Linked DNA regions of Homo sapiens. The protein of the gene in region 2 interacts with the protein of the main gene of each other region in a biochemical or structural test. Each region holds a gene or a part of one and is shown on either strand. Other genes may lie near its edges.

The links.
Region 1: the proteins of HNF4A (region 2) and MED24 form a complex in vitro, tested with the Homo sapiens proteins (one study listed by BioGRID).
Region 3: of the proteins of HNF4A (region 2) and PRKACA, one has a biochemical effect on the other in vitro, tested with the Homo sapiens proteins (one study listed by BioGRID).

What each region holds. Positions count from the first base shown.
Region 1 is NC_000017.11:40,018,494-40,021,047, forward strand, and holds the end of MED24 (mediator of RNA polymerase II transcription subunit 24), read right to left. Parts: intron 1,861-2,554; coding exon 1,780-1,860; intron 1,441-1,779; coding exon 1,292-1,440; intron 1,153-1,291; coding exon 1,036-1,152; 3' UTR 611-1,035; downstream 1-610. UniProt on the Homo sapiens protein: Component of the Mediator complex, a coactivator involved in the regulated transcription of nearly all RNA polymerase II-dependent genes.
Region 2 is NC_000020.11:44,400,595-44,404,245, forward strand, and holds part of HNF4A (hepatocyte nuclear factor 4-alpha), read left to right. Parts: exon of another isoform or gene 1-778; coding exon of another isoform or gene 779-893; intron 894-1,959; coding exon of another isoform or gene 1,960-2,050; intron 2,051-3,651. UniProt on the Homo sapiens protein: Transcriptional regulator which controls the expression of hepatic genes during the transition of endodermal cells to hepatic progenitor cells, facilitating the recruitment of RNA pol II to the promoters of target genes. Activates the transcription of CYP2C38.
Region 3 is NC_000019.10:14,107,763-14,111,413, reverse strand, and holds part of PRKACA (cAMP-dependent protein kinase catalytic subunit alpha), read left to right. Parts: intron 1-3,023; exon of another isoform or gene 3,024-3,429; coding exon of another isoform or gene 3,430-3,651.

The DNA.
Region 1 (2,554 bases), on a different chromosome or scaffold from region 2:
ACCCCCACCAGTCCCCAGTCCACTATCTGCCCAAACCTTCTCCTCCTCAGCTCCTCAGTCCCTCCCACCTCCCCTGCCCGTGGCTCCTCGGAAAGCAGGGTCAGAAGTTCCCACTGCCAGCTCGGAGTCATCCATCTAGGGGCTCAGAGATGTGTGAGGCAGGCAAGGAAGGGTTAAAGAAAGGTCCGGCCCCTCATCCCCCCGCCTCCCATCCCCCAGTCCTTTTTTGGAGGCAACAGATCAAATCCCAGGCTAGTCAGAGTGTGGGTGGTGTTGGACCAGGTTCGGGAGACAGCAGAGCAGGCCACCCTGCCCCAGCACTGTGGGGCCCTGAGCCAAAGCCTCTCCCCTTTCAGGGTACAGCTGGCTTTGGGGGAGGGGGCAGCAGGCCAGCCAACTTGGCTCCAAGGAAGGGAAGCTGCTTTCCCCTGGCCCTTCCCCAGCTGAGCAAGCCCACATAGGACCCTGAGCCCTGCCGCCTCTGCTCCTCTTCCTCCTCCTCCTCACCACAGGAGTGAGCCGTTCCCTGGCCACAGCACAGGAGTCCAGGGAGAGGACACTATGCCCTGCCCCGGGTGGCACCAATACCAACAGCACACACAGTCACAAAGGGAGCCACGAGGAGCTTTATTTATACATGAACGAAGGTAGATTTCCCTCACATATTACAAAATACACACAAACACACACACACACACACACACACACACATACACACTTTGCATCTAGAAAGTTCCTCAGAGGTAAGACTACTCCTGGGCTGGGGCGGGCGCACACAGGGGTGACCACTGGGCTTGTGGTCCAGGCTGCTCACTCTCCTCAGGTGCCAGCAGATGGAGAGGAAATTTTGAAAGAAGAAACCGGGAGACATCCTGGAGGTCAGGAGTCAGGAGCGGGGAACTGGAAGCCGCTAGAGGCTCTTGCACCATGTGGAGCGGATGTGAGGCACGATGCCTCATCTTTCCTCACTGCTTCCCTTGGAGGCGCCTGGGGCTGCGCCAGTCCCCAGCCCCCACTGCGGCCATGCCAAGCCCCTCAGAGTGCAGCAATGGCTTTAGCAGCCACCTGGCGGCCCAGGGGCAGGCTGAGGTCCGTGATGGCCAGAACCACCTTGGGGCTGGACATGGCTGACACCTTCACCAGTTCCGACACCTGCCACGGACAGACAGATGCTGCTTGCGGGACGGCTGGTGGTGGGTGTGCTGTCCCAGGGGGAAGGAGGCCCCTCCCTGCTCTAAGGGCTGCCCCGAGGCCCCAGCACCAGCAGGAGAGCCGGGAAGGTGGTACTCACGGTGGTGAAGGGCATGAACTGCAGGACGCTGCCACGGCCACCCTGCTCCAGGCAGTCCACACACTCCTCCATGAACCACTGCACGAACTGGGTGTGGGGGCCAGCGGTGCGAGACCCCAGGATGGAGGAGATGAGCAGGAACAGGTTGGCTGTAGAGAGTGGGGGGAGAGTGACAGGAGGGAGTTCCATGAGAGTGGGTGAGGTCACACTCTGGGAGAAGGTGGGACTGAAAAGGGAAAAGAAACACATGCTGAGCATGTCCCCAAAATGGGGTGTCAGAGAGAGAAAATATAAAAGGCAATTGGGGAGGGGAGGAGGGGGAACTAGACAGGAGCCTGGGGGCCAGGACAGCCAACAATGAGGGGCATGGAGAGGGAAGGGAGGGGCACCGCAAGGCCCCTTCCAGCTGACAAGGTCTCCCAGCCTCCATGAGAAGAGAGACTCGTCCAGCTTAGCCCCAGGTTCGGCAGCAGGGGTGGGGAACTCACCCAGGACTCGGTTCAGAGGGTCCCGCATGTTGACCGTGTGGAGCTGAGAGGCTGAGAGGGAGCTGCTCATGGATCGGTCTGCTGTGGGACGGAGCAGATGGAGCGCTGGGAAACAGCCTGCCGAGTGCAAAAGTGGTGCTCCCCGGGGATGCCCCAACCCGACCTTCACCCATCGGAGGTAACTGGTACATGGAGAGCCCAGAGAAGACCCTGAGATCAAGAGCACAAAGGGAGGCCAGGTACAGTGGCTCACACCTGTAATCCCAGCATTTTGGGAGGCCGAGGCAGGAGGATCGCTTGAGTCCAGGAGTTTGAGACCAGCCTTGGCAACTAGCGAGACCTCATCTCTACAAAAAATACAAAAATTAGCTGGGTGTGGTGCCAACGCCTGTAGTCCCAGCTCCTCGGGAGGCTGAGGCAGACTGCTTGAGCCTAGGAGAACAAGGCTGCAGTGAGCCGAGATGGTGCCACTGCACTCCAGCCTGAGCAACAGAGCAAAACCGTGTCTCAGAAAAACAGGCTGGGCGTGGTGGCTCACGCCTGTAATCCCAGCACTTTGGGAGGCCAAGGCGGGTGGATCATCTGAGTTCAGGAGTTCGAGACCAGCCTGACCAATATGGTGAAACCCCGTCTCTACTAAAAATACAAAAATTAGCCAGGCGTTGTGGCAGGCGCCTGTAGTCCCAGAGACTCAGGAGGCTGAGACAGGAAAATTGCTTAAACCCAGGAGGCGGAGGTTGCAGTAAGCTGAGATCGTGCGACTGCACTCCAGCCT
Region 2 (3,651 bases):
CCGAGATGGAGCCAGCCTGGGCCAGAAACACTGGGAGCTGTGGGAGACGGAGAGGGGCAGGGTGGGATCACAGGGAGCAGGAGCGGGGAATTGGAGGTGAATCTGGCCCTCCCAAACTTCCAGTCCATTCTGCTCCCAGGGGAACCGGGAAACTGCGGGGGAACTGGAAGGGAGCTCCCAGAACAAGGATCCAGAAGATTGGCATCTGGGGCCTGGGATTTAGGTTTCTAAATCGTGGGCCATGGGGCAGCCTTATCTCTGCAAAAGCATTGAGGGTAGAAGTCAATGATTTGGGAAGTTATTGAATTAGGGGATCTCGGAGGTAGGCTGTCAGTGCCTGATAGTATCAGTTAGAATGCCTGACTTGGGGTGACAATGGCTTGGAGGGGTGGGTGAGTCAAGGGTCAAATGAGTGCCCGTGAGTCATGATGCCTGCCTTGTACAATTGATAACTGAACATCGGTGAGTTAGGGCCCCAGCAGTTGTAATTAGCACCCCGGGTGTCAGCCAGAAACCAACAAACAGCCAAATCCCTGCAGCCCCGCCCAGCCTATCCACCGGCGGGGGACCGATTAACCATTAACCCCCACCCCTCCCCGGCAGAGCCTCCACCCCTTCACAGAGGCTAGGCCAAGACTCCCAGCAGATCTTCCCAGAGGACGGTTTGAAAGGAAGGCAGAGAGGGCACTGGGAGGAGGCAGTGGGAGGGCGGAGGGCGGGGGCCTTCGGGGTGGGCGCCCAGGGTAGGGCAGGTGGCCGCGGCGTGGAGGCAGGGAGAATGCGACTCTCCAAAACCCTCGTCGACATGGACATGGCCGACTACAGTGCTGCACTGGACCCAGCCTACACCACCCTGGAATTTGAGAATGTGCAGGTGTTGACGATGGGCAATGGTAGGTGGGGGCAGATGTGCCCAGGTGTGCCAGTGGGGGCAGGTGTGCCTGGGTCCAGGAGCAGATCTTTGGCACTCAACTTTGGGGTGGGAGGAGAATGATACAAAATGGTAGGTTGGTCCTACAGGCCAGCACAGGTGTTGCCAAGTGAAGCCCATGTGCCCAGGCACAGTGATCACAGGCATTCTGGGTGAAGGGAGGCCTGCAAGGGCCAATTTCCAGCAAAAGTCGATCCCGGCTATTCCTCCCAGGCCCTTCCAGTCCTCACTGCCTCACAGTGGCTCTGCTTGGCGCTTGGCACAGTGACGTGATGGTGAGCTCCCCCTTGGTGCCCAGCTCCAGCGATTCAGCCCAGCACGGCCCCTTCGTGAACCCCTTGGGCCTAGGTTCAGAGAGACGGCAAGGGATGTTGTATCCCTGGAGATGGTGGTTGGAGACATAACCGCATTTCTCGGTGTCTTTGGGACTTTCCTAGGGAAATGAAATTGGCACTTAGGGAAAATGGAGCTCTCAGGGAAGTTTTGCTAACTACGAAGCCAACTCAGCACTGTGTGTGTTGTGTGTGCGTTCGTGTGTGATAGTGAGTTTCCATGTAGGTTGTATGGGTGGGGTGATGCCTTCAGGAACCCATTTGCATATGTGTGTTCATTTGTCTCTGTGTGTGAGTTCTGGGTCTATTTTCCTTTGTATTCATTGAGTGGGTCTGTGTTTGTGTCTTAGGAGTTGCCCGTGTTGATCTTGCTTATGTATGTAAGTGTGTATGTGTGTGTACTTGTGTCTGTGGATGTTTGTACATGTGTGCTGTGTGTGCGGGTCATAGAGCACATGCGTTTGTGCATGCGGACCTGTTGGAGTGCCCTGTTCTTCCTGCATCTTTATCCTGTATGGGCGTTTTGTCGTGTGCCCATATTTGTACCTGCTGTGTATATATGCAGTTCCCTGTGCTGCGGGCGGGGGTCAGCGGTCTCTGGTGTGCACGACTGCACAGACCCAAATGCAGGACTCTGTTGTTGCCACTCACCAAGTGAGATTCATATCAGCAACATGTCCGTTTGTCTCTGAGCAGATTTTGTTGCCGCTGCGTCTCGCCAGATTGAGGCATCCCCTCCGACATCACTGGAGCATATCTGGAGGGGTGGACAGTTCTCCACAGGGAGGTAGGGGAAAAGAGGAGGCCCGGAAACCCCTCCTGGAGGGAAGAGCCCCATCGGTCCCAGGCCAGCCTCAGAGGAGAGGGGGCAGGCAGCTGGCTGAGGTCAGCCTGCCACCCTGCTTCCTTCTGTGTCTTGGAGCCACTCAGCCAGTATGAGGCTGCAGCTCCAGCTGAGGTCTGGAATCTTGTGGTCAGCTCAGCTAGGGTGAGGAGGCAGCTGCTGGGCACTGCTTGTTGTCAGCTCAGCAGGTGCTCACCTGCCCCTGCCGTCCAGTCACGTGTGACCTTGGGCATGTCACCTCCCCTATCCTGGCTTCTGTATCTTCTACAAAACAGGCTTCATTCCCCCAGGCCTGCTGGCTGGACGGCTTTTAGGCCTGTCTGAGGACCACGCCAGGAGCGCAAGGCAAAAACACACCAGAGATAGCAAACAAGCTGCTGCTGCACTAGGTGGAGTGTTGTGTGGCCCCACGAGGACCACTGCCCTGCCCTGGGCTGCTCCCCGCCCCCATCACTTTTTCCAAGCCCAGGAACTGTGTGCTCCTGAGGCAGAGGCCAAGCCCCTGAACTGGGAGTCCCAAAGACAAGACCACCTCCAGCTCTGGAACCAGAAAGATCTGGGCTCAAATCCGGCATAGATCCTTCCAACCTGTGTGAATGTGGCAAGGCAATTTCCTCTCTGAGCCTCAGTTTCCTCACCTATAAAATGGGAATAAATAATAGTGTCTGTCTCCCAGGGCTGGCCAGAGGATAAATAAGATGAGGTGCCTGGGTGCTTAGCCCTGGTAAAGGGCCTGGCCCCACCATGGGTCATCTCAAGGGCTCTGAGCATCTGTAAGCAGGGTCCCCACATTCCTCACTGGAGTTTGAAGTGGTCTGAATTGGGGTTATGTGAAGTTGTCCTCTGAAGTGTTTTGAGTACATCCTGGGCTGGTGTCTGAAAGGCTCCAAGGATATTTCTCCCCCGTCCTCTCCCCACCCCAATGGAGCAGCAGCCCTGGGTGGCTCCTTGTTCATTAGAGGCCCAGCAGACACCTCAACATGTGTGGCACTGGCTGGAGTAGCCCAGCAAGCCTGGACCATAAACCCATGGCTCTGCTTCACGGGAAGCAGTGCGATGACACCAGGAAGCCACTTTTCCTCTCTAAGCCTCAGTGTCCTCATCTGTGGAATAGAGGTGCTCGGCTGACCTCAGAGGGGAGATGATAGAGCTGACAGCCCCCAGCCCATCCTGCCTCAGAGGTGGGAGCTACTTCCCCAGCCTCCTGCTGAATGGCCAGGAGCTGTGGGGGTCAGCTCTCCCCGGGGGTCGGGGGAGGAGAGGCCGAGGGAGAAAGGGCACCCACGTGGCTTAACAATTATCCCCATCTCCAGGAATAATTCACCAAGTGGAGGGGGCTGCACTCCTGGGGACACCTGGGAGTCTGCGATGGCAGAAATGAGATGCGGCAGTGTCTGCTTGTGCAAGGAGCCTGGAAGTCCTCTGCTCCGAGAGTTTTCCTATGTGGAAAAGTTTTTATTTCATGAACACTGATATAGTGCTTACTATGTGCCAAGCACTTCACATACACATATGAGAATTCACCGAATCCCCATAACGAACCT
Region 3 (3,651 bases), on a different chromosome or scaffold from region 2:
TCTTTTTTTTTTTTTTGAGACAGAGTTTCACTCTTGTTGTCCAGGCTGGAGTGCAATGGCGCGATCTGAGCCCACTGCAACCTCTGCCTCCCGGGTTCAAGCAATTCTCCTGCCTCAGCCTCCTGAGTAGCTGGGATTACAGGCATGTGCCACCACGCCCAGCTAATTTTGTATTTTTAGTAGAGACAGGGTTTCTCCATGTTGGTCAGGCTGGTCTCAAACTCCCAACCTCAGGTGATCTGCCTGTCTCAGCCTCCCAAAGTGCTGGGATTACAGGCGTGAGCCACTGCACCCAGCCACCATCTACCACTTTCTAGCTCCATGAGGGCTCTTCTCTCTGAATGCTGAGGGAAAGCTCTGGAGACAGGTAGTGGGGGTGGCTCCCCACAAGGCCATGTGGGATTACTGGCAGGCAGATAACCAGCAATGCCAAAGGGCAAGTGTACAGGGCCCCTCGGTGGCAGCAAACCCAGGAACATCAGGGGGTTGAAGGCAGCTCTGTCCACATTGGCCACCCTGGTGCACTGGACTCAGCACTGAAACCAATGGCTGAGTTGGCAGTGAAGTAGTTAATCTCATGGGATGTGGGGGCAGGCAAGTGACCTCAGACCTGATCAGTCTTCTCCTCTGTACAGTGGGAATAACAGCAGCTCCCACCCCACAGGGTGAGAACGAAGCATAGAAAATACTCAGCAAGGGGCTGGTCCCTTGTAGCCCTAGGTGGTGGTTAAAAGGACAAGTCCATAATGCAAGAATCTGTCAGGCTGCGCATTTAAGATTTGAGCACTCAGTGTATCTCCTATATTTGTTTTTGGGGTTTTTTTATTATTACTTTTTTTTTTGAGACAGGGCCTCACTCTGTCACCCAGCCTGCAGTGTAATGGCTCAGTCACGGCTCACTGCAGGCTCTATGTCCCGGGCTTGAACAATCCTCCCACCTCTGCCTCCTGAGTAGCTGGGACTACAGGTGCATACCACCACACCTGGCTAATGTTTTTATTTTTTGTAGAGGGTTTTGATGTTGTCCAGGCTGGTCTCGAATTCCTGTATTCAAGCAATCCCCCCAACTCGGCCTCCCAGAGTATTATTATTTTTTTGAGAAAGAGTCTCACTCTTGCTCAGGCTGGAGTGTAGTGGTGTGATCATAGCTCACTGCAACCTCAATCTCCTGGGCTTTAAGCAATCTTCCTGCCTCAGCCTCCTGCTTAGCTGAAACTGCGGGCATGGGCCACTATGCTCAGCTAATTTTTTAATTGTTTTATTTTTTGTAGAGATTGGGTCTTGCTATGTTGCCAAGGCTGGTCTCTAATTCCAGGCCTCAAGCGATCCTCCAACCTCGGCCTTCTAAAGCACTGGGATTACAGGCATGAGCCACCGTTCCCGGCTCTCCCTATGTGTGTGTGTGTGTGTGTGTATATATATATATATATATATATATATATATATATTTTTTTTTTTTTTTTTTTTTTTTTTTTTGAGACAGAGTCTCACTCTGTCGCCTAGGCTGGAGTGCAGTGGCATGATCTCAGCTCACTGTAACCTCTGCCTCCCAAGTTCAAGAGATTTTCCTGCCCCAGCCTCCCAAATAGCTGGGATTACAGGCATGCGCCACCGTGCCCAGCTAATTTTTGTATTTTTAGTAGAGACGGGGTTTCACCATGTTGGCCAGGCTGGTTTCAAACTCCTGACCTCAAGTGATCTGCCTGCCTCGGCCTCCCAAAGTGCTGGGATTATAGACGTGAGCCACCATGCCCGATCGCTCCCCATATTTTCTTTTCTTTTTTCTTTTTTTTTTCTTAGACGAGTCTTGCTCTGTCACCCAGGCTGGAGTGCAGTGGTGCAATCTCGGCTCACTGCAACCTCAGTCTCCCGGATTCAAGCAATTCTCCTGCCTCAGCCTCCCAGGTAGCTAGGATTACAGGCACACATCACCACCACGCCTGGCTAATTTTTTTGTTTTGTTTTGGAGACAGAGTCTCGCCCCGTCGCCTAGGCTGGAGTGCAATGGCATGATCTCAGCTCACTGCAACTTCTGCCTCCCGGGTCGAAGCGATTCTCCTGCCACCATGCCCGGCTGATTTTTTTGTACTTTTAGTAGAAACGGGGTTTTACCATGTTGACCACGCTGGTCTTGAACTCCTGACCTCAAGTGATCTACCCGCCTTGGCCTCCCAAAGTGCTGGGATTATAGGTGTGACCCACCGTGCCTGGCCTCATTTTTTTATTTTTAGTAGAGATGGGGTTTCGCCATGTTGGCCAGGCTGGTCTCGAACTCCTGACCTTGTGATCCACCCACCTTGGCCTCCCAGAGTGCTGGGATTACAGACGTCAGCCACCTCACCCAGCCTCTCTCCCCATATTTTATACCTCAATTTAGAAAATAATAGGCTGGGCACGGTGGCTCATGCCTGTAATCCCAGCACTTTGGGAGGCCAAGGTGGGCAGATCACCTGAGGTCAGGAGTTCGAGACCAGCCTAGCCAACATGGCAAAACCCTGTCTCTACTAAACATACCAAAATTAGCTGGGCGTGGTGGCAGGTGTCTGTAATCCCAGCTACTCAGGAGGCTGAGGCAGGAGAATCATCTGAACCTGGGAGGCGGAGGTTGCAGTGAGCTGAGATTGTGCCACTGCACTCCAGCCTGGGCAACAAAGTGGGACTCCATCTCAAAAAAAAAAATAATAATAATTAAAAAAAATAAATTGGCCGGGCATGGTGGCTCACGCCTGTAATCCCAGCACTTTGGGAGGCCGAGGCGGGTGGATCACGAGGTCAGGAGATCGAGACCATCCTGGCTAACACGGTGAAACCCCGTCTCCACTAAAAAAAATACAAAAAATTCTCTGGGCGTGGTGGCAGGCGTCTGTAGTCCCAGCTACTCAGGAGGCTGAGGCAGGAGAATGGCGTGAGCACGGGAGGCGGAGCTTGCAGTGAGCGGAGATTGCGCCACTGCATTCCAGCCTGGGCGACAGAGGGAGACTCCGTCTCAATCAATCAATCAATCAATCAGTCAATAGATAGATAAATAAAAAATAATAATAGCTGACATTTATCTGGCACTATCATCACACGGGGCCACTGTTCAACTCCCTTTGTCAAGATGAACTCATTCATTCCTCAAAACCACCCCACTTTACAGATGAGGAAAACTGAGGCCTAGAGAGGTGAGATCAGTTACCCAAAGTCACAGAGTTCATCAGAGACCAGGCTGGGCTCTGAACTGGATCTTGACCCCAAGTCCTGGCCCTTAGCCACTTTGCTGGGCTGTGTCTCAGCAGAGACGAGAATGACTGTTTTCAAGCCTGTTTCCTGGGTTGTTAAGTGGAGACAATGGATACAAGGCAGGTTGCCGAGTGAGTCAGATGAGACAGTGTAGACAGCAGCCGGCACAGGGTCTGCCGGGGAAGTTTCAACATTAGCCAGGCGGTGATGTTCACCTTGGGATACCATGGGGCCGAGGAGTGGGCATCGGGCGAGACTTCCCTTGAACCAGCTCTGGAGCAATGCCCTTGCGATTGCCACGGAGAGGAACAGGGCCAGCTGGGGGCCAAGGTGACAGCTGAGCCCCCCAAGGGCACCTGCTACCCGAGCCCCCGAGGCCTCCATCCCAGGCCCGGCCTCCCCAGAGAAGGGGCCAGAGGAACAGCCAAA